4 linked regions of the Homo sapiens genome follow. The protein of the gene in region 1 interacts with the protein of each later gene in a pairwise test. Each region holds a gene or a part of one and is shown on either strand. Other genes may lie near its edges.

The links.
Region 2: the proteins of ELAVL4 (region 1) and ZNF436 interact in binary tests that used the Homo sapiens proteins (3 or more experiments, as listed by UniProt).
Region 3: the proteins of ELAVL4 (region 1) and FOXD4L6 interact in binary tests that used the Homo sapiens proteins (3 or more experiments, as listed by UniProt).
Region 4: the proteins of ELAVL4 (region 1) and BEX3 interact in binary tests that used the Homo sapiens proteins (3 or more experiments, as listed by UniProt).

Annotation. Positions count from the first base shown.
Region 1 is NC_000001.11:50,195,903-50,202,932, reverse strand, and holds part of ELAVL4 (ELAV-like protein 4), read right to left. Parts: intron 5,505-7,030; coding exon 5,466-5,504; intron 2,125-5,465; coding exon of another isoform or gene 2,083-2,124; coding exon 1,755-2,082; 3' UTR 1-1,754. UniProt on the Homo sapiens protein: RNA-binding protein that is involved in the post-transcriptional regulation of mRNAs. Plays a role in the regulation of mRNA stability, alternative splicing and translation.
Region 2 is NC_000001.11:23,359,837-23,366,866, forward strand, and holds part of ZNF436 (zinc finger protein 436), read right to left. Parts: intron 3,386-7,030; coding exon 2,133-3,385; 3' UTR 1-2,132. UniProt on the Homo sapiens protein: May be a transcriptional repressor.
Region 3 is NC_000009.12:41,125,916-41,132,879, reverse strand, and holds FOXD4L6 (forkhead box protein D4-like 6), read left to right. Parts: upstream 1-4,198; 5' UTR 4,199-4,496; coding exon 4,497-5,750; 3' UTR 5,751-6,445; downstream 6,446-6,964. Other genes in the region: ZNG1F (zinc-regulated GTPase metalloprotein activator 1F), read left to right, coding at 523-652, 1,040-1,146.
Region 4 is NC_000023.11:103,372,368-103,378,693, reverse strand, and holds BEX3 (protein BEX3), read right to left. Parts: upstream 2,081-6,326; intron 1,667-2,080; 5' UTR 1,588-1,666; exon of another isoform or gene 1,232-1,587; coding exon of another isoform or gene 1,173-1,231; coding exon 867-1,172; 3' UTR 530-866; downstream 1-529. UniProt on the Homo sapiens protein: May be a signaling adapter molecule involved in NGFR/p75NTR-mediated apoptosis induced by NGF. Plays a role in zinc-triggered neuronal death.

The sequences.
Region 1 (7,030 bases):
GTTTTGTTTTCCCCAATCTGAGTTACATTAAAATAAAGACTCAGTTGTTTTTATTTTTCTACTGTGCAGTAAGAAAAAATATTCACAACAAACATGACAATATATCAAAGAATAGTTCTACACAAGTTACCTTGATACCTCTTTAACTGTCACTTAAATATCATAAGAAAACATTTTAAGACATATACAAACAAAACTAGCCAAGTGTTACAACTTATAATAAATTAACCCAAAGAAAAAATAACTTTATATATATATATTTATATTGTATATACACATACACACACAACAGAATGACACAATAATATGCTTCTTCCCATAGTTTAAGTAAACAAATAAGTAGTCTAGCCAATCTAGCTATATTTGATCTCGGCCATAGGCATCATCACATCGGCGATTAAATAAATAAGTGTTTCAAGCAACATAAACAGTGTTTCAAATGTACCAACACAGCCCAATTCTATCAGCATGGGCTACAAAGTGAATTTGAAAATTTCTTAATGAATTTAAAGCAAATGTATCTTTTGTTTTCCTCTCCTAAACACATTACATTTAACTATGATACTAAGATATGTAAATAATTTTGTAGCACCTACTGCTCAAACTAAGGAAGTTTTAGATCAAAAGGAAAATTAATCTTTTTAATTTTTGTTCTGCTGACATCCCATACTGATGACTTAAAGAAAAACTGTCTTTCAACTCATCTCCTTGCTTTTGGGTTTTGACTGTGGGGAACTGTGGTACCCTGGGTAGAACGAACACTCCTTTCCCCTAGTAATTAATAATTGTTTTTTAATTATTATTACATGCTATGAAAAGATATGAAGATCATCTGTTTATAGCCCATCCTTCAAAAAACAGTCTACGAATCCAGTTTAAAACACACATCTTGATCTCTAAAAAGTTACCAGTGCAGTATGAACGCGACAAAGTTGTCAATTTCCCCTAAATTAGCCAGTCAAAATATTTTTTTCTCAAATCCAGATTCTCTTGTAAAAATTCTTTATATTTTATAAAAATAGATTTTTCTTGAAACCCATTTTCAGCAAAGAGACCACCTCTTTGGCAACAATGTTAATGTTATTAAATTGTTAATGTCATCAGGTATCCCCCTTGCCCCCATCCCCTAACAGAAGACTGTTTTAGTTCACATGATATAAAAGAAAGAAGGAAAAATAAAAAAATTTGCAAAAGTTTTTTTTTATTTTTGCAATTTTTATTATTCCTCTTTAATTTGTGTGGGGGTTTTTACCAATCTGATTGGATCGATATTTTGACAAAAAAGAAAAATCTTTTTTTCCTTTCTTTGAATCCCATTACTTTGTAAAAATTGTTTTATTTTTATTATTTTTTTTGTTTTTTGTTTTTCTTCTTCAAATGAGCGAATGGTCATCTTAAAAAGATCCACCTTCAAGGAAGGTAGTAAAGTTAGCTGGCTGGGTAAAAATCCCTGCACATCGCTATCTATGTATATTATATTCAACAACGACAGCTATGAAAGAACATTCAATGCATCAAAGGTATTTTTTGTTTTTTTTTTTTCTTTTTTTCTAAGCATTATAAAATCCTTTCCTGGTACACCTCAGGATAATCCAATGTTTTAATACTTAGGCAACACTGGCTTATAAAGTCCATGGTTGAATATAAGCCTTGAAAAGTTTGTTTCTCTCTCTTTCGTGTATGTGTGTGTGTGCGCGCGTGTGTTTTGTTCGTATATATTTCTATATATATTTTAGTAAGTAAGAATGGGAAATTCAGGACTTGTGGGCTTTGTTGGTTTTAAAGGAAACTTGCAACACTCTGTCTCCCAGGCGGTACCCGTTGAGGCTGGCGATGGCCATGGCCGCCTCATCATAGTTGGTCATGGTGACAAAGCCGAATCCCTTGCACTTGTTGGTGTTGAAGTCACGAATCACCTTTACGTTGTTCACTGCTCCAAAGGGGCCAAAGAGCTGCCAGAGGACACTCTCATCGGAATCGGGGGACAGGTTGTAGACAAAGATGCACCACCCAGTTCCTGTGTGACCAGGGATGTTCATTCCCACAAGGCTTGTCATTCCATCAATGGTAATTGGGGAGAACCTGGGGGGACAAGCAGAAGGGGGGACTGGTCCAGACATCAGTCTGACCAAGGATAACACACAGATGCACAGACACAGACATGGGGCAGAGGGCTGAGTGAGTGTTTACAGGAGAGTCTTCAGGGTTCAAAAACCAAAATGTAAAAACTAATGTCTATGTCATTTCCTCTGATGGGAATGGCTTGACTGGCTAGGGCATGTTCATGCTGAGAGAAAGACCTAGGTCAATTTCTAAAAACCATAAGGGACTCCCAGGGCTCCCAGAGCAAGGCTCTGTAACAGTTCTATCACAGTATATGCTCATAGCGCACCCCAACCTGACTCCACCCCACCCCGACTCCACCCCACCCCAACAATAGACAATGTGCTCTTGGAGGAAAGGGTCTATTTCATTCATTCTGTGGCTCTATTTGTTTATTCAGTGGAGCACATATGGGAATCTCACAGATATAGTGACACATAGAAAATGCTCAATAAATATTTATTGGTTGAATAAGTGACTCACTTTGGCCAGTGCTTGGGAAATTTCATTGTTTTTTTTTTTAAAGGCAGATTAGGAGATGGCCCTAAAGTGCTTAAGTCTACCATTTTTGCACTCCCTTGACCTACGGTTGTCAAATGTTTCTTGGTGAGGATGGAGATACGTGACAATGAACAGGCCTTTCTTGCTATTAAACAGATGGGTGGTTCATGTTTCATTTAGCATTTATTCAAAAGGGTTTCCCCCACAAACTCAAGCAATAATAATAAAGATGTATTACTCCTTTATGCTATGTTATCTGGAATTTATTCCTAAGTATCACTGAAGCAAGACTGCAAGTGGTTTGTGCATTTATATATCTTGAATCGCTATACATTAGAAAAGCATAGAATTGTTATTTGCCCTATTACAACTGCTTTTGTATTAGGTTTAGAAATCTTCTCAGTTTTTGTGCAATCCTGAAAAGAAAAAATGACCCTTTAAATTCTATTCACTGTCTGATGAAATAAATCCTTGTGTAATTTGTGAGGGATGTACCAGATGAAACAATTAGGTTACCAGTGCCTATAGCAGAACAATATTTGTTAATGTTTTGTTTCATATCAAACTTACATAGGGACTTTTTTCTTTTTTTTTCTTTCTTTCTTTCTTTCTTTTTTTTTTGAGATGGAGTCTCACTCTGTCACCCAGGCTGGAGTGCAGTGGCGTTATCTTGGCTCATTGTAACCTCTGCCTCCCGGGTTCAAGTGATTCTCCTGCCTCAGCCTCCTGAGTAGCTGAGACTACAGGCACGCACCACCATGCCTGACTAATTTTTTTGTATTTTTAGTAGAGACGGGGTTTTGCCATGTTGGCCAGGCTGGTCTTGAACTTCTGACCTCAGGTGATCCACCCACCTTGGCCTCCCAAAATGGTGGGATTACAGGCATGAGCTTATATACGGATTTTTGATGCTATACACTGAATAGTTTCTTGCTTTTCATTTGGCCAGGGTTTTACTGGGGGAGATAGGAAAAGGAGAGAAAGCAAAAACTAGGGAAGAGCATGGTGTAAAGTGTGAGCTACAACTGTTTTTAAAAATAAGCAAATATTCTTGGAGATTTGAAAGTCCTATTAAAGAATAGTTCTGTATCTAACTAGAATTTGGATAATCAAATGGCTACTGAATATATGCTAAATATAACAACTCAATAGACAATATTTTTGCTATTATTCACTAAGTCAATCTTCCCTCTTGTTTAAAAACAATTAACAAGAAAAAGCCAAAAAATATCATGGTGTAGATCCTTAGACGTGCAAATCCATGTCTATTTGTAACTTGTATCATTTCTGAAGATTGTCTTTTTAATATTCTATCCTCCAACCAAGTGAGTTGACCCTGGTGAACTGACCTCTTTCTGTTTATAGGTAGAAAACAGCTAAGTATTTATTATAAGTCAAAGGTCAGGGCCAGCAAAGAGATTGCAAGTACAGCCTCTATCCTAGTTGGTGACAGTTAATTGCAGCATTTTGGTAGGAAGCGTTCTAAATCCAAATCTGGGTTCAATAGGAAAAGAGAATGCTATTATCAGCTAGTGATGTTTACTCTGGGTGGGGCAGTGGAGGAGGTGGTGGCAGGCCTACTACAGCTGTGTCTTCCCCTATCTTATCTATTTATAAGCATTTCTCTTTTCACAACATTTAGCACTACCTCACTAACATCAGAGAGGAGCAAAGGAATGAGATAGAGCTAGGAAAGATGTAAAATCCCTGGGAACAGGCAAACAGTGTGCTGGAAATGTGGAGATAATTCATAGTTATCCTCATTGATGCTGGGATTGAGATTTGAAAGGCCGGTCCTCTGATAGTGAAGTCTGCAGTCAGGTTACTTCCTCTACCATGCACCAGTTCCCAGAGTCAGGGTACTTACCATGGATGGCCAGTGAAAGAACTGGGGGTGTGATGTGGACTATTAAAGACTACATCTCTTTCCCTTGACTGTAGGAAGGGGAATTAAAGTGTGCAGCTCTACTGAGCAAGATGATGAAGACACTATGTCCCTAGCAGTGCAGTGGAGCTTATCAGAAGCACATATGGGAATCTCATGGACACAGTGACATCACACACCCAACTTTCCAAGATTCAGATTTCATACTGGGTCTGGAAAACTTTGAATCTGCATTCAGAGAGCCCCAAAAGCCTTGACTCTGGGCCCCCAACCCCACAAAAAGCCTTTCAGTGACAGGAACAGCAAGTTTAAAACACACATAACATATAACCAAGGGAGGATTTATAAGAACTGTTAAAACCTGTAACAAAAGAAACCCCTGGTTGAGGTGCACACAGATACACTTCATTCTCAGGATGTGCTCTGAAATGCACACTGAAGTGGGGGCAGGAGTTAGAAAGTCATCCACGTGTTTGTTTATCCTTTGGCCAGAGCTGGTAGTCCAAAATCTAATTTTTCTACTGAAAAATCATAAGATTGTCAACCACAATTAGCAAAATGTTCTAATTCTGATTTGCTGGAATCTGCCCTCTTAACTGAATCTTGGCATTGCTAATGCAAAACAGTTTGCTCTGCAAGTTTGCAAAACCAGCCAGCAAAGAGTCGGAGCCTTTCCCCTTAGGGGAGCCATTCAAAGGACCAGATTATTAAGGGCTTGGTAGCTGTGGCACCTGAACCATAGGAGAAGCCCACCTGCAAATAAAAGAAAAAGTGAAACACACAAATACATTTTGTGTGCCCTAAAAGAAACAAAATCAACTGAGGTCCGAAATTAAAATTAAGAATTTGACATGCTGGTGGAAGAAAAAGGAAGAATTTTTTTCTTTTAAAGTAAAGTTAGTGAATTAAAAAAAAAAAATTCTAGCCCCAGTCTGTGCCAACATGGACATCTGGCAATCTGTGGAGTTTTAATTACCTCTTTACGCCATAGGCCATATTAAGCAAATTGTCCAGCCTGCAAAGAGAAGGAGGGTCTCTGGGTTAATGCCTCACAGATGGCAAGATCGCTCAATGGAACTATTAATAAGAATGCTCCATTTTCAAAGAAGAAAAGCTCAACAACTTTCCCCACTGCTTAGGAGTCTATCCACCGGTAGTTTCCCCCTTTTCTGTCTCTAACTGCAAGTAATTCATGTTCAGGTCATTGCTAGAGTTTAAAGCAAGTGTCTAATGAGTCTCCCTTTCTTTCAAGGTCTGAATTAATACCATTCCCCCCACCTCTCAGAACATTTGTGTGGATTTTGTTTTATATTGTAGTGAAATTGTTCAAAGCGGGGGCTTCTTAAATTGTTCACCTTTTTACTATAATTAAACTTGTAAATAAAGGTCTCTGTTCCAGATTAACAATACACAGGCACACAATATGTATCAGAACAGATCTTTTCTGTTAGCCTTGCTACATTAACTAAATCATCTTACTACACACATTTTTGGGAGGCAGGGGGAGTTTGCAGGTTAAGATTTTTAAAAAGTGGCTTACTGTTTACTGCCTGATAGCACCTCCCAGCAAACTGCCATTACGCTATAATCTTCCTCACATTCACTACCTTACTTGGGGACAAGCTATTCACACCATAGGGCAGTAGTAACGATAGTTTCCACCATTAGAAGTCTGCTGGAGAGGCTTTTTACATAAATACTGCATGTGCTCTCAAGCAAAATAAAAATTAGATGACTTGGACTCTTCATGAAATCATTAACCATTTCAAATTCACAGGGCATAGGAGGACACGAAAGAGGATGATTTTTCTCCTCATGTAGCCAGATGGAGCATACTATCCTAGATAGAAGGACCTACTATTTCCCATGTGAAGTTTCTCAAAGAGAAAAACATTTTCATCAAAGGGAAGCTGGGCTGTGGTGTGGAATAAAGTAATTGTTTAGAATTTATCATGGGTAAGTCAAACATATTTTTATCTCTTGTATAATAGAGACCAGTCAAGGTCATACTGCCTTCATGGAGAGAAACCTGTCTTTTAGAAAAGTCCCAGGAGAAGGGCAATGCCCCCCTGCCCCAGGAGCTTCCTGGGGGTTGGGTACTTGAAGGAAACACTAATCAGGCTTGGACAGGATCTTCCTCCCTATCTTCCCAGAATCTACTGACTTAACATAATAAGGTTAACACCAAAGGCACTTCCCCCTCCCCTGAACTCAACAGAGTTACCTGCCGAGGGAAAAGAAGATAGGAAAAACAACTCCTTCTGGCAAGGATCTGCCTTATGGTCTATTTTTTGAATTTATTAAAAGCCACTGTCCAGCCTTAAGTCTAATCTGCTGAATGTGGTCACTGATCTGTGATTAACTCTTGTTGAAACTGAACCTTCATGTTTGGTTAAATACAGACATTTTGTTTCTACCAAAGAATCTAAAGTTTATACAGTCACAGTAGTAAATTGGAAGAGGGCTTAGAAGGGCATCTGCTCCAACTGTCTCATTTTACAGGAATGGAAACTGAGGCTCGGGGGGAGTTTTGCACAGTGA
Region 2 (7,030 bases), about 27 Mb from region 1:
CCAAAAGCAGCAGCAGGAACTGGTTGGGGTGGGGCAAGAACAGTAGGGAAGGAAAAGGGGGTGAAATACAGTTAGGTCATGGAAATGCGGTCATCTATGGCCACTCCCAAGCTGATACCCATAGTGGCTCACAGAAGCAACAGGAGAACTTTGACATTTATTAAAACCATCAGCAACATATATGAGAAAAGACATATTTGAGTTTAGTTACCAAGAACATGTGTCACCCGACAATTAAAATATGGATACCCACAGTCTGCTAGATTTTGTAAATAACAAAAAAACATGCTCCTTGCCTGAGTTTGTCCTTAAAAAGGAGTGGCAACATGAAGGAACCCCCCTGGAAGATGGGTTACTTTAAAGGTTGTGTTATTAACAAGTGATGTGGTCCCACACAGCTGTGGGTCACAATAACTCATTATAGTACCCACCCAGAGAGACCACTGGCTCCTTTAACACCAAGTCCTAAAAAGCTATGGCAAAACATTTTTAAAATGTTACAACATTCACAATAAAGAACAGTAGCAATAAAGCACAGTAGAAATAAACTGGGGGTACTCTCAAAAGAAAAGATATTCCTCACTCCAGTCCCATTTTCTGGGCACCAATTCCCTTCCACCCCAACATGCTTGGATAGCATCAACACTTGAGATATTTCTTAATTCCTACCTGGACTGAGATTAGGAAAACTGACACTACTGGGCTTAAATTGGGCGAACTGTTATTTTAACCTCTTATATCTGTAGGGTGGGAGGATGGAAATACATTCCTACCGAGGTTCGTTAATTCCTTCTGACTAAGCCAAAGAGTTCTTCATTACCATAGAAGATAATTCATTCTGAGAATAGGACAATCGACCTATTTGTCTGGTCATTATCTTCCACAATTGACAAACACATACAAACAAGTGCTTAGCTCTGTACAAAGACAGACCTTACAGGAGAGTGCACACTAAAGCACTAGTGTTTAAATTATTTTCCATAATGAAAAAAGGACATTTCTCACATTGGAGTTATGTCTGTACTTCTGTCACATGACTCACATCACCCAAGAACATGCTAAGTCTCTGTAAATTCAGTTTCTATTAGAAAAACCACAGGAATACACATTACTGTACATACACATGCCCTGATGCAAGCTAAGATAAACACTGGGATGTGGCCCTTATCAAATCTTAGAGTTAGCAGGATAGGAAGAGTTGATCTTAAAGATTAGAAGGGAAAGAACACAGAAACGACCTACATTCCTTGGGAAGGGACTCTGTGGTTCCTTCCCTGAAGGACTCAATTCCACTTGCTCCTTACACTTAACTGTCACTGATGGTCCTATCTTTTCTTGAAGATATTTTCTATACAATATTCCCTATAGTGATCCCCAAAGAAAATTCATAAATCTGATTAATGGCAGTAATAACTGTGGGCATCTTCTGCTAAAGTCACCATCATTGATGGGTCCTTGGTCCCCAAACCTGTGTCTCATTTTTCCTTTCCAACCGTATCTTCAGTTAGCCTTCACAAAGATGCAAGCTTTAAAGGAGCTAATTAGAAACAATGAGAAGGAGAAAAGTTACAATCATTGCCTTCATCGTGCAAAATCTTGCCCTCAGGAAGATGGAAAAGATACAAATGCATGAGCAACTCAAGGAAAAAGCCCTTTGGAAGGGAAGATGTGTGTGCCCAACTACTATGGTGTGTGAATAGGTGTGGCAATTTAGGCAGAGTCTCTAGTTGCCTTTTTCCAAAGCAGCCATTACCACCCTATTACAGTCCCACGTTTCACTTAGCATAGTTCCTTGGGCCAAGGATGGGAGAAAATAACATTGAAAGATTTACTCCATTTCCAGGCCTAAGCATTCACCAGCATTTGTCCCCTGGTCTTCAGATTTCCAGTTACTTGTGGGGCTGCTTTTAATGAAGTAACCCATTGAGTGAATAAAAATCACCATTTTGGAGGAGATAACATTCCCAAAGCTGAGGGTCAGAATTTCAAATGGCTTGTCATCTCTGATGGTTTAAATCGTGGCCCACAACTAGGAGAGTATGATAAAAGCAGCTCAGTCTTGAGGGCGTTCATTGATATCAAATAAAATTGTATCTTCAAATGAATCATTTCTCAGCCATCATAATTACAGCTTAGTCCGTATGAACTCTCTTATGTTTAATAAGAGCTGAGCTCCTGCTGAAACTCTTCTCACATTCGGTACATTCATAAGGTTTCTCTCCCGTGTGAACTCTTTGATGTGTGATGAGGTTGGAGCTCTGGGTGAAACCTTTCCCACACTGCACACACTCGTAGGGCTTCTCCCCTGTGTGGGTTCTCTGATGTTTAATTAGATCTGACCTTTCACCAAAGCTTCGCCAACACTCATTACACTCATAAGGCTTCTCTCCAGTGTGAATTTTCTGGTGTGTGATGAGATGAGAGCTCCGGCTGAAGCTTTTCCCACAAGCATTGCATTCATATGGCTTCTCTCCAGTGTGAGTTCTCTGGTGCTGAACCAAGTGTGAGATGCGGCTGAAATTTTCCCCACATTCGTTACAGTGGTATGGCTTCTCTCCCGTGTGGGCTCTGCGATGACGCACAAGGTCGGAGTTCTGACTGAAATTCTTCCCACACTCATCACACTTGTAGGGCCTCTCCCCTGTGTGGACTCGATAGTGTTTGATGAGATCAGATCTCTCACTGAAGCCTCGGCCACATTCGTTACATTCATAAGGTTTCTCACCCGTGTGGGTCCTCTGGTGCTGAGCTAGGTGAGAGCTCCGGCTGAAGCTTTTCCCACACTCCTCACACTCATAGGGTTTCTCACCACTGTGGGTCCTTTGGTGTTGGATTAGGTGAGAGAGACGGCAGAAACTTTTTCCACACTCATTACATTTGTGAGGCTTCTCTCCAGTGTGGATTGTCTGATGCTGAATCAGGTGAGAACTTCTTCCAAAACTTTTCCCACACTCGTTACAGTCATAAGGCCTCTCCCCAGTATGTGTTCTTTGATGCTGAATAAGGTGTGAGCTGCGACTGAAGCCTTTTCCACATTCATAACATTTATAGGGTCTGTCTCCAGTGTGGGTCTTCTGATGTCGATTAAGGTCTGAGATCTGACTGAAGGCCTTTCCACAATGAGAACATATATGATAGCGGATGCCTGTGTGGACTTCTTTGTGGACAAGTAGATCAGTGACTGGTTGGAGAGGATAGCTTACCCACTCTTCTGCTGTTAAATCTCCCCATTGTCTTTCTGACCTATCTCCGCTTTCAAAGCCCTCTTCACTTTCAGGATTTTCCTCAGCATTCTCAGCAGGTCTTTCAGATGTAGTCCCAAATTGTACATCTTCACTAATCTCTTGCTTGGGATTTACCTCGTTCTCACTCCTGATCTCAAAATCTGTAATAAAAAGTAAACAATAAGACTAGTAAGTACAAAAATTACCTATTGTGTGCCAGGCACTATACTAAATTTTTTTTTTTTTTAGACAGAGTCTCACTGTGTTGCCTTGGCTGGAGTGCAGTGGTGTGATCTTGGCTCACTGCAACCTCTGCCTCCTGGGTTCAAGCAATTCTCCTGTCTCAGCCTCCTGAGTAGCTGGGACTACAGGTGCACGCCACCATGCCCGGCTAATTTTTTTATTTTTAGTAGACACAGGGTTTCACTATATTGGTCAGGCTGGTATTGAACTTCTGAGCCACTGTGGCCAGCCTAAATTATTTATATTCTTCGTCACATATATTCTTTATCACAGCTATTCTGAGAGTCAGGAATTGTGATTATTTCTACTTCATTAATGAGAAATCCAAGACCCAGACAAGTGAATTGACTTGCTCAAGGCCATAGTAAATGGTAGAGCCAGTATTCAAACTCAGGTCTGTCAAAATTCACATTCTGTATCGCTGTAATTAATGATTCATTAAGAAAACTATACAGGCCAGGTGCCGTGGCTCACGCATGTAATCCTAACACTTTAGGAGGCCAAGTCAGGAGGAACACTTAAGGCCAGGAGTTCAAGACCAGCCTGGGCAATATAGGGAGAACCCATCTCTACAAAAAAATTTAAAAAATTAGGTGGATGTGGTGGCATGCAACTGTAGTCCCAGCTACTCAGGAGGCTGAGGTAAGAGGATCACTTGAGCCCAGGAGTTCAAGGCTGCAATAAGCTGTGATTGTGCCACCGCACACCAATATGGGTGACAGAACGAGACCCTGTCTCTTAAAAAAAAAACTATATATATTCGTGTTTTGAAAGAACACTGGAAGCAGAAAATATGAGACTCTAAATTAGAATATCTAAAAGGCAAGATTCTAGGTATTTTGTGAGTATGTATTTTTTAACTTGCCAAGCCTTCATCATTAGTAGCATCATAAAATATTTACTAAGAAGCCACTATGTTTTTGTTTGTTTGTTTGTTTTGTTTTGTTTTTTGAGATGGAATTTCACTCTTGTTGCCCAGGCCGGAGTGCAATGGCGCAATCTCCGCTCACTGTAACCTCTGCCTCCTGGGTTCAAGCGATTCTCCTGCCTCATCTTTCCGAGTAGCTGGGATTACAGGTGCCCGCCACCACATCCAGCTATTTTCTTGTATTTTTAGTAGAGACAGGTTTTACCATGTTGGCCAGGCGGGTCTTGAACTCCTGATCTCAGGTGATCTGCCCGCCTCAGCCTCCCAAACTGCTAGGATTACAGGCGTGAGCCACCGTGCCTGGCCAGAACCAACTATGTTAATATGGAGAAAAATGAATCTTTACCTATGTCATAGTTGACAGAAAAGTGACTGACAAATGTCACTTCCTACTTTTCAGTGACCTTTTAATGAAAATAGGAGTGGGAAAGTTGAAGAAGGCAAAAAAGATGTCTGGCTGAGAACATTCTTGGCATTGTCTAAGTATATTTCACATGCAGTCTTCAAATGAAAATCAAAATACACAACCACTGTCTACAAGGAGTTTTATACCAGACACTGCATTCTCCAAATTGGGTTTCTTAGTACACTCTTCAGAAAGAAAGTATGTATTTTGGGAGAAAAGGGTTCATGGATAAACTGGGTTGGTAAATGGTACATACAATATCATTTCCTTCAAAATTCACAATGCCTAATAACACATTAAAGGTTCTAAGGAATCCTGAGGTAAAAAGGCCTTATAAGGCCAGATGCAGTAGCTCAGGCCTCTAATCCCAGCACTTTGGGAGGCTGATGCAGGAGGATCACTTGAGCCTAGGAGTTTGAGACCAGCCTGTGCAACATAGGGAGGTCTCACTTCTATTAAAAATAAAAAGAGGCAGGCCGGGCGCGGTGGCTCACGTCTATAATCCCAGCACTTTGGGAGGCCGAGGTGGGCAGATCACGAGGTCAGGAGATCGAGACCATCCTGGCTAACACGGTGAAACCCCATCTCTAAAAAAAAAAAACGCAAAAACTAGCCGAGTGTGGTGGCGGGCACCTGTAGTCCCAGCTACTCAGGAGGCTAAGGCAGGAGAATGGCGTGAACCTGGGAGGCAGAGCTTGCAGTGAGCTGAGATCGCGCCACTGCACTCCAGCCTGGGCAACAGAGCAAGACTCCATCTCACAAAAAAATAAATAAATAATAAAAAAATAAAAAGAAGCTGAGCATGGTGCCTGACACCTGTATTCCTAGCACTTTGGGAGGCCGAGGTGGGCGGATCACTTGAGGTCAGGAGTTCAAGACCAGCCTGACCAACATGGTGAAACCCCGTCTCCACTAAAAATACAAAAATTAGCTGAGCGTGGTGGCATGCACCTGTAATCACAGCTAGTCGGGAGGCTGAGGCAGGAGAATTGCTTGAACTCAGGAGGCAGAGGTTGCAGTGAGCCAAGATTGGGCCACTGCACTCCAGTCTGGGCAACAGACTGAGACTCTGTTTCAAAAAAATTAATTAATTAATTAATTAATTTAAAATTTTTTAAAAAATAAAAAGAATTAGCCGGGCAAGGTGGTACGCATCTGTGATCCCAGCTACTCAGGAAGCTGAGATGGGAGGATGACCTGGGCCTGGGAAGTCAAGGCTGCAATGAGTTGTGATCGTGCCACTGCACTCCAGCCTGGGCAACAGAACAAGATCCTGTCTCAAAAAAAAAAAAAAAAAAGCCTTGTAATCATTTTTAAACCCATTCCCATTCCCAAACTTATTTGGGCAAGAAACCAGTTTTTTGGCGCTTTCATCCTTCTAACAAGTGCTTTTGGGGCTAAACTGTAGAATTGTAAATTCACATTTTTTAAAGATTGTCATTTTTTGCTTTTGTTGGATTCAGTGGAATATTTGGGTTACAGACTGCAATAGATCTGGATAGATAACTATTTATGGTTACTTTTATAAAGAAAGGATTCAAGAAACTAGGGACATCAGAGAAAGCTCAAGTTAAAAAGGAAAGCCCTCAGAGTTGCCTTTTGTTCTGAAAAAGGCTATGGGAATAAAGATTTCAAAAACAGGATTAATCCTAATGAATGGCAAATGACCTAGTGACCCATACACGCTTGCTAATGTCTGTCAAGTCTTGACAGGAGGCAAAGTGAGGCAAAGTGAGTCAAAAGACCGTTCAGCTCAAGAATATACTCTTTATTCTAGTTACACCCAGACCAAAGTACAGCAAAGAGAGAAGACAGGCTTGCAGACCATGAAAAAAAAATCAGCTGCCCTCTCTAATAGAATTTGTGATCTATTTCAGCATTCTTCTGGAACAGCATTTGACACACTACAAATCTATCATCATCAACACTGAAACATCTCTAGATGAGAATCTACTCAGCTAAGGAACTTGAGGCAAAGCTAGGGCTCTGAAGCCAAAACAAACACAAAAAGGTGGCTTTCGCCCTCCCATGAACCTGGGTTAGAATCCCCTCATCTTTTAGCACCCTAGAGTAAAAGCACTAGTTACGGGGCATTTATATTCTGGCAAGCACTATTATGCCAGACCTGTTTGGTCAGTGATCTGTACAAACAGGCTGGAGATTGGAAAATGACTCAGGGCACAAGAAATCTGAACGTCTAAGACGTGCAGAAGCAGTTTTTTTCTTTTT
Region 3 (6,964 bases), on another chromosome or scaffold:
ATACACAATGAGCTCATATTCAGATAAATTGAGCTCATATCCAGATAAATATAATAGTTTTTCTTTATTTCAACATTGTTCATTGATTGCAACCCATTTCTAAAACAAATTATTTAATATAACCAAACTCCTTTAACTTCTCAACTTTTCCCACTAAAACTGTGAAACATTATATAAAATCTTTAATCAATAGGATATGATACATATTTCATCATTTTGTTTCAGGTTTTGGTTGTGATAAATAACACTGAAAAACCATCCTAATATATGTATTAACTTTATCATTAGAAAAGGGGATTGTTCAAAAAAAAAATCAATACACAGAAACCTTTTTTGAAAATTAAAAACATTAAGAAACTTCTTGTAATTCACAAATAATTGGAATTAAGTAATTTTCTCAGCTTAAGAGTTTGTATTTTTTAAGTGAATATCAGTAATTAATCCATTAACATTGATGCTCTATTTCTGCTTTTAAGTTTGAACTGAGGCTGATTAATGTTCAGTCAATTCTCCTTTGAGCAGGGATTGGTGTCAATCAAAGACAAATCACAACAAGTGATTGTCCAGGGTGTCCATGAGCTCTGTGATCTGGAGGAGACTCCAGTGAGCTGGAAGGATGACACTGAGAGAACAAATCGATTGGTCCTCATTGGTAAGTCTCAAAGGATTCACAGTTTTGAAACAAAGTGAAAAATATATTTGAAAGGGATATCATGTGCCACTTAAACAGATTAACCATTCAGGTCCTCTTTTAAAACTAAATAAGCTTGTGGTCAATGTTTCATCTTTGTCACGTTACAATGTTCGTAAAAGCTTGTTAGGACTTTTGTTCTTCTTCAATTTTAGAAAAGTGGTTAATCCAAGGACCAATGTGACTTTGATGTACTGACCTGGAAAGTTAAAGATGGAATCACTCAATTACTATTCTTTTTGTAAATTTTTAAACACCATAAAGCATTTAATGAACTGGAATTGATAGGTGAACTGTGTCATTTTAATAAGCATAATGTAATCACGTCATATTTTGTTTTGTTTGCAGGCAGAAATTTAGATAAGGATATCCTTAAACAGCTGTTTATAGCTACTGTGACAGAAACAGAAAAGCAGTGGACAACACATTTCAAAGAAGATCAAGTTTGTACATAACACTAGAGGCATTTCTTATCAAAAGGATTGGATAATAAAAATAAGTTTCTACTGGGTATATTTCAAGCATTTATTTATTACTTTAGTTACGAATTCCAATATACTTTAAAATGGTATTTGTTTTACAGCATACATAAAATGTAGCAAATCAGTACTGTAAAACATTTAACATTCATACAATTATATACAATATCCTTTTTTTTAAAGAATGGTATTTCACAAAAATATCTTTTGAAATTGGCTTTGGAGTTTACATATACTGAACATGAAAGTTTATAATAATGATGATACAACTTTCAACATTGTCATTTTTTCTTAGAACTTCAGCTGATTGCAGAGATATAATGATTACATTGTTATTAAATTTTTTTAACACAAGTAAGTGTCACCATTTTATGACATGAAATAAAAGGTTATGACTGTTATTGATGTTGATGTTGACGACCTGATCACCTGGCTGAAGGAGTGTTTGTCAGGTTTCTGCATTGTAAAGTTACTCTTCTCCCCCATTTCATACTGTGCTCTTTGGAAGGAAATCACTATGCACAGCCCACACTAAAGGAATGGGGAGTTGTAGTGTACTTTCTTGGGAGTGGTCTACATAATTAATTGAAATTCTTCTGCAAGGGACAGTTGTCCCTTTCGCTTTATTAGTTCGATCATTTATGTTTATCAGTGTGGACACATGAATATTTTATACTTTGGGTTACAATTTAATACTACTTTATTTTGTTGCTCAAATTATCCCAGCTTTGACCATTGGGAACTCTTTCCGTTATCTCCTGTTCCCCCCTTTGACATACCCCCATCAGTGTGGGTTTTGTGTTTTGTTTTTGAGCGCCTCCTTATTTTTCTCCTGTATTTTTAAATAACCCCAATCCCTATTGAAGCTGGCTCTAGGAAAACTAATACTCCCTTTCCCAGGTCATCCGATTCCTATGCTGATGGAGGAAATTTGCCTCACATGCTGGGGGGCGCTGGGGAGGAGGCGTCTGGGATTATGTGGTTGAATAAGACACCTGGCCTGGCCCTCCTGGAGCTTAGTTTAGTAGGTCACACAAGCAGTCATTGGTAAATTTGGGATTCAAACAAATCTGTTAGGCTCAAACCTGTCTGTTATTTGTCCTCCAAGCTTCATATAAACTGAGGAGCCTTAAAGGGTAAAAACTTCAGGAGCAGCAAAGTTTCAAAAAAAGATCAGCAAGAAAGCTCTTTTCCAGATTTTATCCTGAAGGCACTAGCTACTTTAAGCTATTTTTTATTATATTTTGCCCTTGCAGTTGGCGTTTGATTTCTCACTGAACATTCATTGTCATAATTATAGACACTATGTGACTATCAAGGGCATAATATTCTTTCATGCTGCATTTTTATTAGATGGCACCTCAAAGTTTTCCCAAGTAGGTGGGTTTTAAATTATGAATATATACCGTGGCATAGTATCTTACTTAGTATTTTAATAAGATTCTTATTTATATAACAAATTTTTTTTATTCCTCTGTAGTGCTACTTTAGTCTCTGAGCTAATTTTCATGAAGCCAATCTAAAAATCGTGTTACTTCTAAGGATGTGGAGGGAGTGAGATGAACAGTTGTGCTGTCATATTGCCCCTCCCCAGTGCAGATAGTGAATGAGGACCCACTGATTTAAAGGCAACACTGCAGCCCCTTCTTGCCTCATTGAAGTCCCAAGTTTTATTACAGTAAAAGCACTTAATGTTGACATTTCTGAAAGAATGAAGAGGCTGGGCATGGCGGCTCACGCCGGTAATCCCAGCACTTTAGGAGGCTGAGGCAAGCGGATCATGAGGTCAGGACATCGAGACCATCCTGGCTAACACGGTGAAACCCCGTCTCTACTAAAAATATTAGCCAGGCGTGGTGGCGAGCGCCTGTAGTCCCATCTACTTGGGAGGCTGAGGCAGGAGAATGGCGTGAACCCAGGAGGCGGAGCTTGCAGTGAGCTGAGATCGCCCCACTGCACTCCAGCCTGGGCGACAGAGCGACTCCGTCTCAAAAAAAAAAAAAGAAAAAAAAAAAAAAGAATGAAGAGCCAGAGCCAGGCATAGTGGCACGCCTGTAGTCCCACCTACTCAGGAGGCTGAGGCGGGAGGATCACTTGAGCCCAGGAATTCAAAGCCAGCCTGCGCAACATAGACCCTGTCTCTAAAAATGAATTGGTTATAAAGGATGAAGAAAGGAAGGAGGAAAGGGAGAGAGAGAAGCCCTTATAGAGTGGGTGCATTTCTTGTATGTGGGGCCACTTTGTAAGAACAGGATTTTTCAAACTGGGCCCATACTGGTATGTGTGAAATCAATTTAGTTGGTTATGGCCATTTTTTTTTAAAAGGAAATATCAGTGATCACTATAGTGTAAGTATATTGTTTCGTGAAACCCATCTTAGTTATGTATTATGTCTGTATGTGTGAGATTGTGATATAAAATGTATTTCTGTGGTTAAATATTCAAAGAAATTGGAGAACCATTGCTACAAGGGGACAGAGGACTCCGTGTGAGCTCTCCTGCCTTCCCTGAGTAAACTTACACAATTTAGTGCTGGGACATTTGAGCCTTTTCTGAAAATTTGAGTCAGGGAGAGCATCTTGAGGAGGTGGGAAGGAAGGTAGAAGGAGCAAAGCAACACCCCCCTGAAGCCTGGGAATATTGTCAGAACCTTAAATATAATTCAGCTCACCATTCTGGGTAAGGGCAGACTCTACCAATGAAAATGGGTGATTACCAGCTGTGAAACACAAAAACATACTTTTACGGTTACACATTCCTTTACAAACAACCGTGTACATTTCAGCCTCCTGCCCCACCATTTCTTTTCTCCAGGCGGGAAGGCTGCATGTTGAGGTGGTCATAGAATGTTGAGTATCATACTTTCCTACCTCGCTTTTATTTGCGCGGGTTTAAATGCGCCTTAACAGAACCCGTGCAAAGGCTTGCCAACTGTCTGGCTGCACCGGATGAGTAGAGCATCTTCCTTGGTGGCAGGTGGGTGCGAGGAGGAGGGGGCTGGGCTTTTCTCCGGACGGGTGTTTGCCCAGAAGACCATCATCCCTGGACTACGTTAGGAGGAAGTGGCACCGCTCCGAGGTAGGGGAAGAAGGGTTATAAAGGGGGGAGTCCACCACACATGGTCTTGAAGAAGCTTTTATAAAAGGCAAAGGCATCTTTGCCGGACGTTGTTGCAAAGGAGTAGAAACAAGCAGACGAAAACATCCCAAAGGGTAACCACTAGCGTTCCTGCTTCTTGCAACATTCATCCCAGGCTTCCAGCTCAGCCCGCCCCAGGCTAGGTGATCGGTCGCCACATCCCCTGCGACTGAAGCACCTGCTCCTCCATGAACCTGCCAAGAGCTGAGCGCCTTCGCTCCACACCGCAGCGCAGCCTCCGGGACTCCGATGGGGAAGACGGTAAAATCGATGTCCTGGGAGAGGAGGAAGATGAAGACGAGGTGGAAGACGAGGAGGAGGCGGCGAGCCAGCAGTTCCTAGAGCAGTCGCTCCAGCCGGGGCTGCAGGTGGCCCGGTGGGGCGGGGTTGCGCTTCCCCGAGAGCACATCGAGGGCGGCGGCGGCCCGAGCGACCCCTCAGAGTTTGGCACCAAGTTCAGGGCACCGCCAAGGTCTGCGGCGGCCTCTGAAGATGCCCGGCAGCCGGCAAAGCCCCCCTACTCGTACATCGCGCTCATCACCATGGCCATCCTGCAAAACCCGCACAAGCGCCTCACGCTCAGCGGCATCTGCGCCTTCATTAGTGGCCGCTTCCCCTACTACCGCCGCAAGTTCCCCGCCTGGCAGAACAGCATCCGCCACAACCTCTCGCTGAACGACTGCTTCGTTAAGATCCCCCGCGAGCCGGGCCACCCAGGCAAGGGCAACTACTGGAGCCTGGACCCCGCCTCCCAAGACATGTTCGACAATGGCAGCTTTCTCCGGCGTAGGAAGCGTTTCAAGCGCCACCAACTGACCCCGGGAGCCCACCTGCCCCACCCCTTCCCTCTACCTGCTGCACACGCCGCCCTGCACAACCCCCACCCAGGCCCTCTGCTTGGGGCCCCTGCCCCGCCGCAGCCAGTCCCGGGGGCCTACCCCAACACCGCCCCCGGGAGACGCCCTTACGCTCTGCTGCACCCGCATCCTCTTCGCTACCTACTGCTCTCGGCCCCCGTCTATGCCGGGGCACCGAAGAAAGCAGAAGGCGCGGCCCTGGCGACCCCGGCACCCTTCCCGTGCTGCAGCCCTCACTTGGTCCTCAGCCTTGGGAGGAGGGCAAGGGTCTGGCGTCGCCACCGGGAGGCGGATGCATCTCTTTCAGCATTGAGAGTATTATGCAAGGGGTCAGGGGAGCGGGTACAGGGGCTGCGCAGAGTTTGTCCCCGACCGCGTGGAGCTACTGCCACCTGCTCCAGCGACCATCAAGCCTGTTGCATCCCCAGACCGCTGCCCCTTTGCTGCAAGTGTCCGCCGCCGCCGCTGCTCGGACAATTTTGCAGCAATAGCAGCAGCATCAGGAGGAGGACTGCGCCAACGGCTGCGCTCCCACCAAGGGCGCGGTGCTGGGCGGGCACCTGTCGGCCTCGTCGGCCCTGCTGAGGTATCAGGCAGTGGCAGAGGGCTCTAGGCTGACATCGCTGGCTGCCCCTTTGGGCGGAGAGGGGACCTCACCAGTTTTTTTAGTATCGCCCACGCCCAGTTCCCTGGCCAACTCCGCAGGGCCCTCCTAGAGCCAGGTGGGAGTGGGGAGCGACCCGCAGCTGCTCACTTCACCTTGCGCGGCCCATTCAGGGCGTGTGCATCTGAATCCCGCTGGAGAGCAAACACGAACTTCTGTTCGCTGCAAAATGGTTAGAAAGAAACAGCTGGATTACGTTCCTCTAAAAACCACCTGAACGTAACCTTCGCAGGGCGTCAAGTCATCTTTTCTTGCCTTCGGTTGTGGCTTCTATGGCTGTCCCGATTTGCGCATTTCCTGGGGTACTATGAACGTGAGTGGGGTATTTTGTTCTGGCATTAAAAGAAAAACAAGCAAGCAAACAAAAACACAGCCTCCGATGCCAAACATGTTCCCCCTTCTTCACTTCCTTGGAGCTGGAAGTATTATTCCTAAGTCTAGTGCAAAATGCTTCTACTCTCTGTGTCTTCCTGATAGGGATGTTTAATGTAAGTAGGATATTAATTTCAGAACATTGATTTCTTATCTGTGTGTCTGACGTGCCATCTTTAATGTTAAAATTAAGGTGTTAAAATTAAGCCTAGTTATATAGACGAAATAAAATGCTAAGTCACTACACTACATCGTTTATTTTCTATTACATCTCATTCTTCCCTTTCTAAATGGAACTTTTTAAAACCTACGTTACTTTCCCTCAAACAATTTATTTTCACAATTCATATTTATTATAGATAGCAGAAGTAATCCATTTTAATATGGCCTTTAAAAATTCCAAATATTTGAGGTTGAAAATGTCCTGGCTTTTAAAATAGGAAATTTACTATTTATGAGACTTCTAAAAGAAAAGAATAGGAGGGCATGTAAATATATTCTCCATTTATTTTTCATCACCCCTCAACAAGCTGGAAAACCATTTGAGATCAATTTGGAATGTAGTGGCCAACATGTACTCAGAGAAAATAAAAGGCTATAAATTATATATATATATATATATTTTAAGCACTAGAATTTTCAAAACTTATTTCTTAAAAAAAAAACAACTCTGAAAAGACTTTGCAACTAGAAAGGTTTAAGTGTTACTCGGCGTCAGGGGACGGAGTGGGGGGAAACCAGACAAGAACGCCCATCATGAATT
Region 4 (6,326 bases), on another chromosome or scaffold:
AGCATTGTTCCCCATTTCACAGAGCAGAAAACGGGCTCTTTAAAGGAATGCATCTGTAATAAAGGGAAGGTTTATTATTCCAGTTAAGACTGAAGGATAGTTAGAGTTTACTCTTCAAATTTGTTGAGCCAGTATTGTTACGTATCTGCACTACATTCATAATCTCATTGAAAAATAATTTTCATTGCTTCTCAAACTCCAGATAATAAAAGGAAAAAAATGTCACATATTACTTTTTTTTTTTTGAGACTGTCTGGCTCTGTCGTCCAGGCTGGAGTGCAGTGGCGTGATCTCGGCTCACTGCAACCTCCGCCTTCCGGGTTCAAGCCATTCTCCTGCCTCAGCCTCCCGAGTAGCTGGGATTACAGGCGTGTGCCATCACGACCGGCTAATTTTTTGTATTTTTTTTTCAGTAGAGACAGGGTTTCACCGTGTTAGCCAGGATGGTCTCGATCTCCTGACCTCGTGATCTGCCTACCTTAGCCTCCCAAAGTGCTGGGATTAGTTAACACACAGAAATGTTCACCAATTAACACTCTAGTGTATTTAATCTCAGATTTTTTTTTAGTTCATCTGTTATATGTAAGTATACATTTTTAATGAGACAATAAATGTATAGATTGCTTTTTAAATTGCTTTATTAGCTTTAAATTTTTCCATGCAAATGGGTGAAACTACTGCTGACAGAAACTTACACTGAGTGCAAAGGCAATCTTCAAATAGAAGCTGGCAACACAAGACCCACTTGACACATGGAAATAACATAGGGTTCACAGCAAACGGATCAGTAAAGGCATATTAGGAAAATGCAAGGAAAAAGAAAACAGCGGGAATCACAGTATTAATCTCATGATAAATGGCAGGAGTCAAGGCATAAGGCAAAATTCATCATGATGGTCATGGTGATTAGAGAGCTCCCCCATAAGGATACGCAGACAATTCCTCAACTGCAGCTCCCTAAGTTTTCTTCTGATTTCTCTCATCTCCTCCATGAATATTTCCATATCATCTCCATCTCCACCCATCCCATCATTGATCTGCCTATTGGGTATGGCCCATCGAAAATTAGGGGCAAGTCGGCGAGCCTGTCCCCGTCGATTTCCTGCAGGCTGGTGGCCTTCACCTCCTCCCAAAGGGCGGTCTTCCTCTCCATTCTGCATAGGCTGCTCCATCTCTTCGTTTTCCTGGTGAATATTTGCCATGATGAGATTTTTTTTTTCTGGTTGTTTTTCTTTGAACACAAGTAAGACAAAGGCAAGGAGAGAGACTGAATGCTTGGTGCTCTGACCAGCAGGATTCAGAGCCCTGATATCAAAGGATTTTTTAATTTCGTTTTTTCCCACCTTAGAAGTTCCGCGCGTCCTCTACGGGGCCTCCAATTAAAGCCCCTCCCTCCAGCTTTCTCCCCTTACCTCCCTTCCCCCAAACCCACCATTTTTCGTTTCCCGGGATTCTTTCCCAGAGCTTTGCAGGCACCAAAATGGAGGACCGGTATAGGAGTGGGGGATGGGGTGGAGGGGGTTGGGGTCTCAGACTGGGCTTTCCTTACGTTCCGACCCCCGCCCCACCACCGTCCCTCGCACCGACCTGGGCCTATCCTTGCAGTCTCCTTCTCCTCCGGATTCTCGCCGCGAGGTGCGCCGCGGAGACACTTAGCCTCGCAGACCTGCAGTCGAGCCGGGGTGGGGGTTGTGGGGGGTGGGGGCTGCTGCAGCGGAACGCTAGCGAAGACCCGCCGCCGCCCGGCCCTTTCCGTGCTCCGAGCCCGGGCTCCCCTCGCTGCCAGCGCCCCGCGTCTCCCGCCCCCCACCCCCACCCCACCCTCGAACGCCCAGCCCCCCGCGGTGTTCGCTGTTTTCCTGCAGGGACTCGGGGGTGGGTTTCCATCGCTCTTGGTGGCTCTGCCGCCCCTGGAAACCCAGCCGCCCCTGCTTCCCCATCCCTGGGGGCCTCTGTGTTCCCAAGCATGTTGGGGTGTGGAGAAAGCTGGCGGGGACCCCCTGCGCTGTTCTGCGCCTGTCGCCGAGGTCGGTCAGCCGCTGCTGGCATGGCCGGGGCTCACGGGCCCCGGAGCCCTTACCTGCTCCGCTTTTCCCCGGGCCGAATGCCAGCCCGCCGAGCTCAGGGCAGCGGGGAGCTGGTAGCCAGACGCGAGTGACGACTGCACCGAAGGCTGCGTCGCTCTGCAGCTCTGGGTCACGTGAGGGCCGCGCGTCACCACCGAGCTCGCCCCCCAACTTGGGCGGCCAGTGCAGCAGGATCTCCCCCTTCCCCCCACCCGCCACCGCCATATGCACGCGCAAAAAACAGCCTCCCTACTCCCGTCTGCATGAGGTGCCCCAGAGCGCACAGCCCTGTCACTCTTCTCGGTCCTCTCCAATCTGAGGGCCCACAAGTGGCATCACTGCTCTGCGGTTGGAGTTTGCCCTCCTCTGGTTACCAGGGAGGGTCTGCATCATCCTCCACCACTGCCCCCTCTCACTTCAGGCCTTGGCTTTGGCCTTTTCTGCTTTCTCTCCTTTTCTACCTGGCAACATGCTTTGCGCTGCACTCCCACTTCTACCCCTTGCGTGTGCACAGCCATCAATGCCCACGTAGCCCCTGAATTCCTACCCTTCTAGAAAATTTAGAGTGAGGGCTAAGGTGGGGAGGCAGGAGGGCATTTGTCAGAAAGCGGGGCAAGGAAGTGGAGTGGACTGTATATATTTCTTTTTATTTCCTTAAAAAATCTGCATGCTTCAGAAAATTATAAATTATAAGTTTTTAATTTTGAAAGAAATGCTGGTTGGGCGCGGTGGCGTACCTGTAATCCCAGCACTTTGGGAGGCCGAGGCGGGTGGATCACTTGAGGCCAGTAGTGTGAGACCAGCCTGGCCAACATGGTGAGACCCCATCTCTACTAAAAATACAAAAATTAGCTGGGCGTGGTGGCGTGCGCCTGTAATCCCAGCTACTCGGGGGGCTGAGGCAGGAGAATCGCTTGAACCTGGGAGGCGGAGGTTGCAGTGAGCCGGGATCGCACCACTGCACTCCAGCCTGGGCGACAGAGCAAGACCCTGTCAAAAAAAAAAAAAAAAAAAAAAAAAAAAAAGGAAATGCTTTATCCTGCACAATGAAATCTCTCATTGTTTATGTTGACCTGTACCACACAAAATATTTTTTCTGGGCTCCACACAACATCAAGCCATTACTTTTGATACATACTAGCTCGTTTAAAATTTTATTTTTGGCCGGGCATGGTGGCTCACGCCTGTAATCCCAGCACTTTGGGAGGCCGAGGCGGGCGGATCACGAGGTCAGGAGATCGAGACCATCCTGGCTAATACGGTGAAACTCCGTCTCTACTAAAAATACAAAAAAATTAGCCAGGCGTGGTGGCACGTGCCTGTAGTCCCAGCTACTCGGGAGGCTGAGGCAGGAGAATCGTTGAACCCGGGAGGCAGAGGTTGCAGTGAGCCGCGTCGCACCACTGCACTTCAGTCTAGGCGGCAGAGCGAGACTCCGTCTCCAAAAAAAAAAAAAAGAAAAGAAAAAAATATATAAAAAGGCGGGACTCTTTCTTTTTCTTTTTTTTTTTTCCCCCGAGACGGAGTCTCGCTCTGTCGCCCAGGCTGGAGTCAGTGGCGCGATCTCGGCTCACTGCAAGCTCCGCCTCCAGGGTTCATGCCATTCTCCTGCTTCAGCCTCCGGAGTAGCTGGGACTACAGGCGCCTGAAAGGCGGGACTCTTTCTGAACACAGTTGGTGTTTTCGAAATGATCTGTAAAGTGAATCTTCAGGGAGCAGTCTGGTCGTCAGATCTTCACCATTTTATGTAACTTTGATGTTTTTGATATCACAGTCATCAGAGAAAGGGAGTCTTTTATTCCCTGCTTTCCTTTCCAAACCTTTCAAACCATCCCTACAAATATCTTCTTAGTATGAGCTCAGAAGTTAAGTACATATTATGCAGAAAGTAGTTTCAAAACCATCTACCCTTTGGTGCGAATGTTTCAAAATATATTAGAAATAAGCAGGGGGTGTGTGAAACAACTTAACTTGAGACTGAACCTTATCCTGAGTGCAAATGTTCCTTTCTCCAACTTGAAATCATTTTTAAAAAAATTATCACAGCTAGAAAATAGAGATGTCTTTAGAAAAGTGGCATTGTTATAAAAAATATTTGATATCTGTTGTTTATGATAAGGAACCAAAAGCATTAAATGCAGCACTGAGGCAAGACAAGCCAGACAAATGCTTACTAACTCTAGTTTTGGCCCCAAACTCCTGTAGAATTTCCTACCCTGCTAAACCAGATGACACAGTGAATAAAGGAAGAGTATATGCCCAGTGTGTATGTAGTTAGACGTTTTGGAGATATGTATTCCATATAAAATTACATATATATTCTTCTAGAGGTATATGGATATATTAGTACATAGCTCCAAAACATCAAATTATAAAATCACACTCAATATTTGTCTTTTAAAGAAATGTTAGTGATTCCTGGATTCTGTCTCACAGTTAAGAACTTTTTATACAGATTGCTATATTAATGATATCAGCTGGAATGATGCAGTTTCAAAGCATGAACAGTAGTATCAGACAAGTCTGGCTTCAAATTCAGTCAGCTGTTTACTTGATGTTCAACTTTGGATCAATTACTTATCAAGGTCTGTGTGCTTCCTCTGTGAAACAAGGATTGTTAGAATTACACATAACAATAATTTACTACATAGCCTAGTAAATCATCAATTTTTGTTGACATTATTTTTATTGTTATTCGATGGTTTCTAACATGATTTAAAGAGTAGCAGAGTATGATTCTTTCCTTAGCTAGACCCACTTGTTCTTAAAATCCATGAGGGCCCAAAACATGCTTGCTGTGTTCTATTTTGTGTACCCAGTGACTAATAGTGTTCCTTGCACCAAGTAGGTGATTACTGAATACTTGTTGAATGAATGTATCCAGTACTGAGGCGAATAGGTTGTTTTTCATTCTGGGGACTGTATTTAGAGCAATACGGAAAAGCTTTTATGAAAATTAAGAATTACCTAGAAAAAAATCTCCTGAAAGCTGAGAAGCCACTGTGATGTGACTATTGGATATGAAGTTTAGCAAGTGGATTTTTATTTCTTTTGGTGGCTAAATGCTTTGCTGTTTTCCTTTTCACCCATCTTGGATAAATCCTGTGTTCAAAACCATCAAATTTCCTTGGATGAAAACAGACATTTGTTTGTAACATCCAGATTGGATATTATGCTATATTGATTAGTTGTAATAAAGTAATGTTTTAAAGATAGGTGAAAATTATCCGGGAAATGCTGTTATCTTTACTAAAATGTTGTGAATAGGAGTTGATTGAGATGTTTTCTTGACCCTGAAGTTTTCTGAGGAGTTGGAAATAGACAGCACACTGTTGAGAACAAAAACAAATTTTTTCAAGGCCAAGTTAGAAGGACACTATATTCTGCATTTGGGATTCATGTGTCCCAAAAGGCAGAGAGAAGGTGAACTGATTAGATGGTTCTTATCCCCACACACACGTTTTACACATGTTTCAAGCCCAGGAGCCTCAATTCTAATCTGCCCTGGAGGCACCAGGAGGACTCAGAATGAAAAGTGAGATTGGCATTTGAAAATGAATAGAACCAAATCTTTAGTCTGACTGAAACTATTTTAATAAGCAGTAGTGACTGAAAAGTTGGAGAACTGGACAGAAATGTAGTTAAAGAAGCCCATTGCCCCATGCGAAGTGGGGGAGGGAGTGATAGAAAGAACACTGCTGATACAGCTATTGGAAAAATAAAACTGTTTCATGATTTGACCTCAACTAGTGAAGATCCCTCTATTGTATTAGTATCCCATCAGTGGAAGCTCGTTTTTGCTGAAATCTTTATGTGTATTGCCATGACATGGCTCACATGTACTTGTCTGAAATGCACCTGGTTGGACTGTGGTTATTGTCCTGTTTTCCTCTCATTATCTCTCCTGTGTAAATGCTAGGCTTGGGAGAAGGTAGTCTGAGCCCTAGTGGGCCCTGTGGGTATGAGTATCTCTGTTCCTGCCTAGAATAGGTTCTCTATGTACCTCTCTGATGCTTTACTGATACTTTTTTATTGTGATTCTCTCTTTCTCTCTAAATTTAAGCACCGATTACAGACTGAAACTAGGTGTTAAGAATATAGGAAATTATGCCTACTCCAGCTTTCCTCTAAGCTATGGCCATTATAACTTTGATGCCAAGATTTCCAAAATGTGGAATGAATCTGATGAAATTTTAAGGGTGTCACTGTAAGAGTTTCAATGATTTGGGAGATAATATATTTAATTCAAGAGATCTAGTC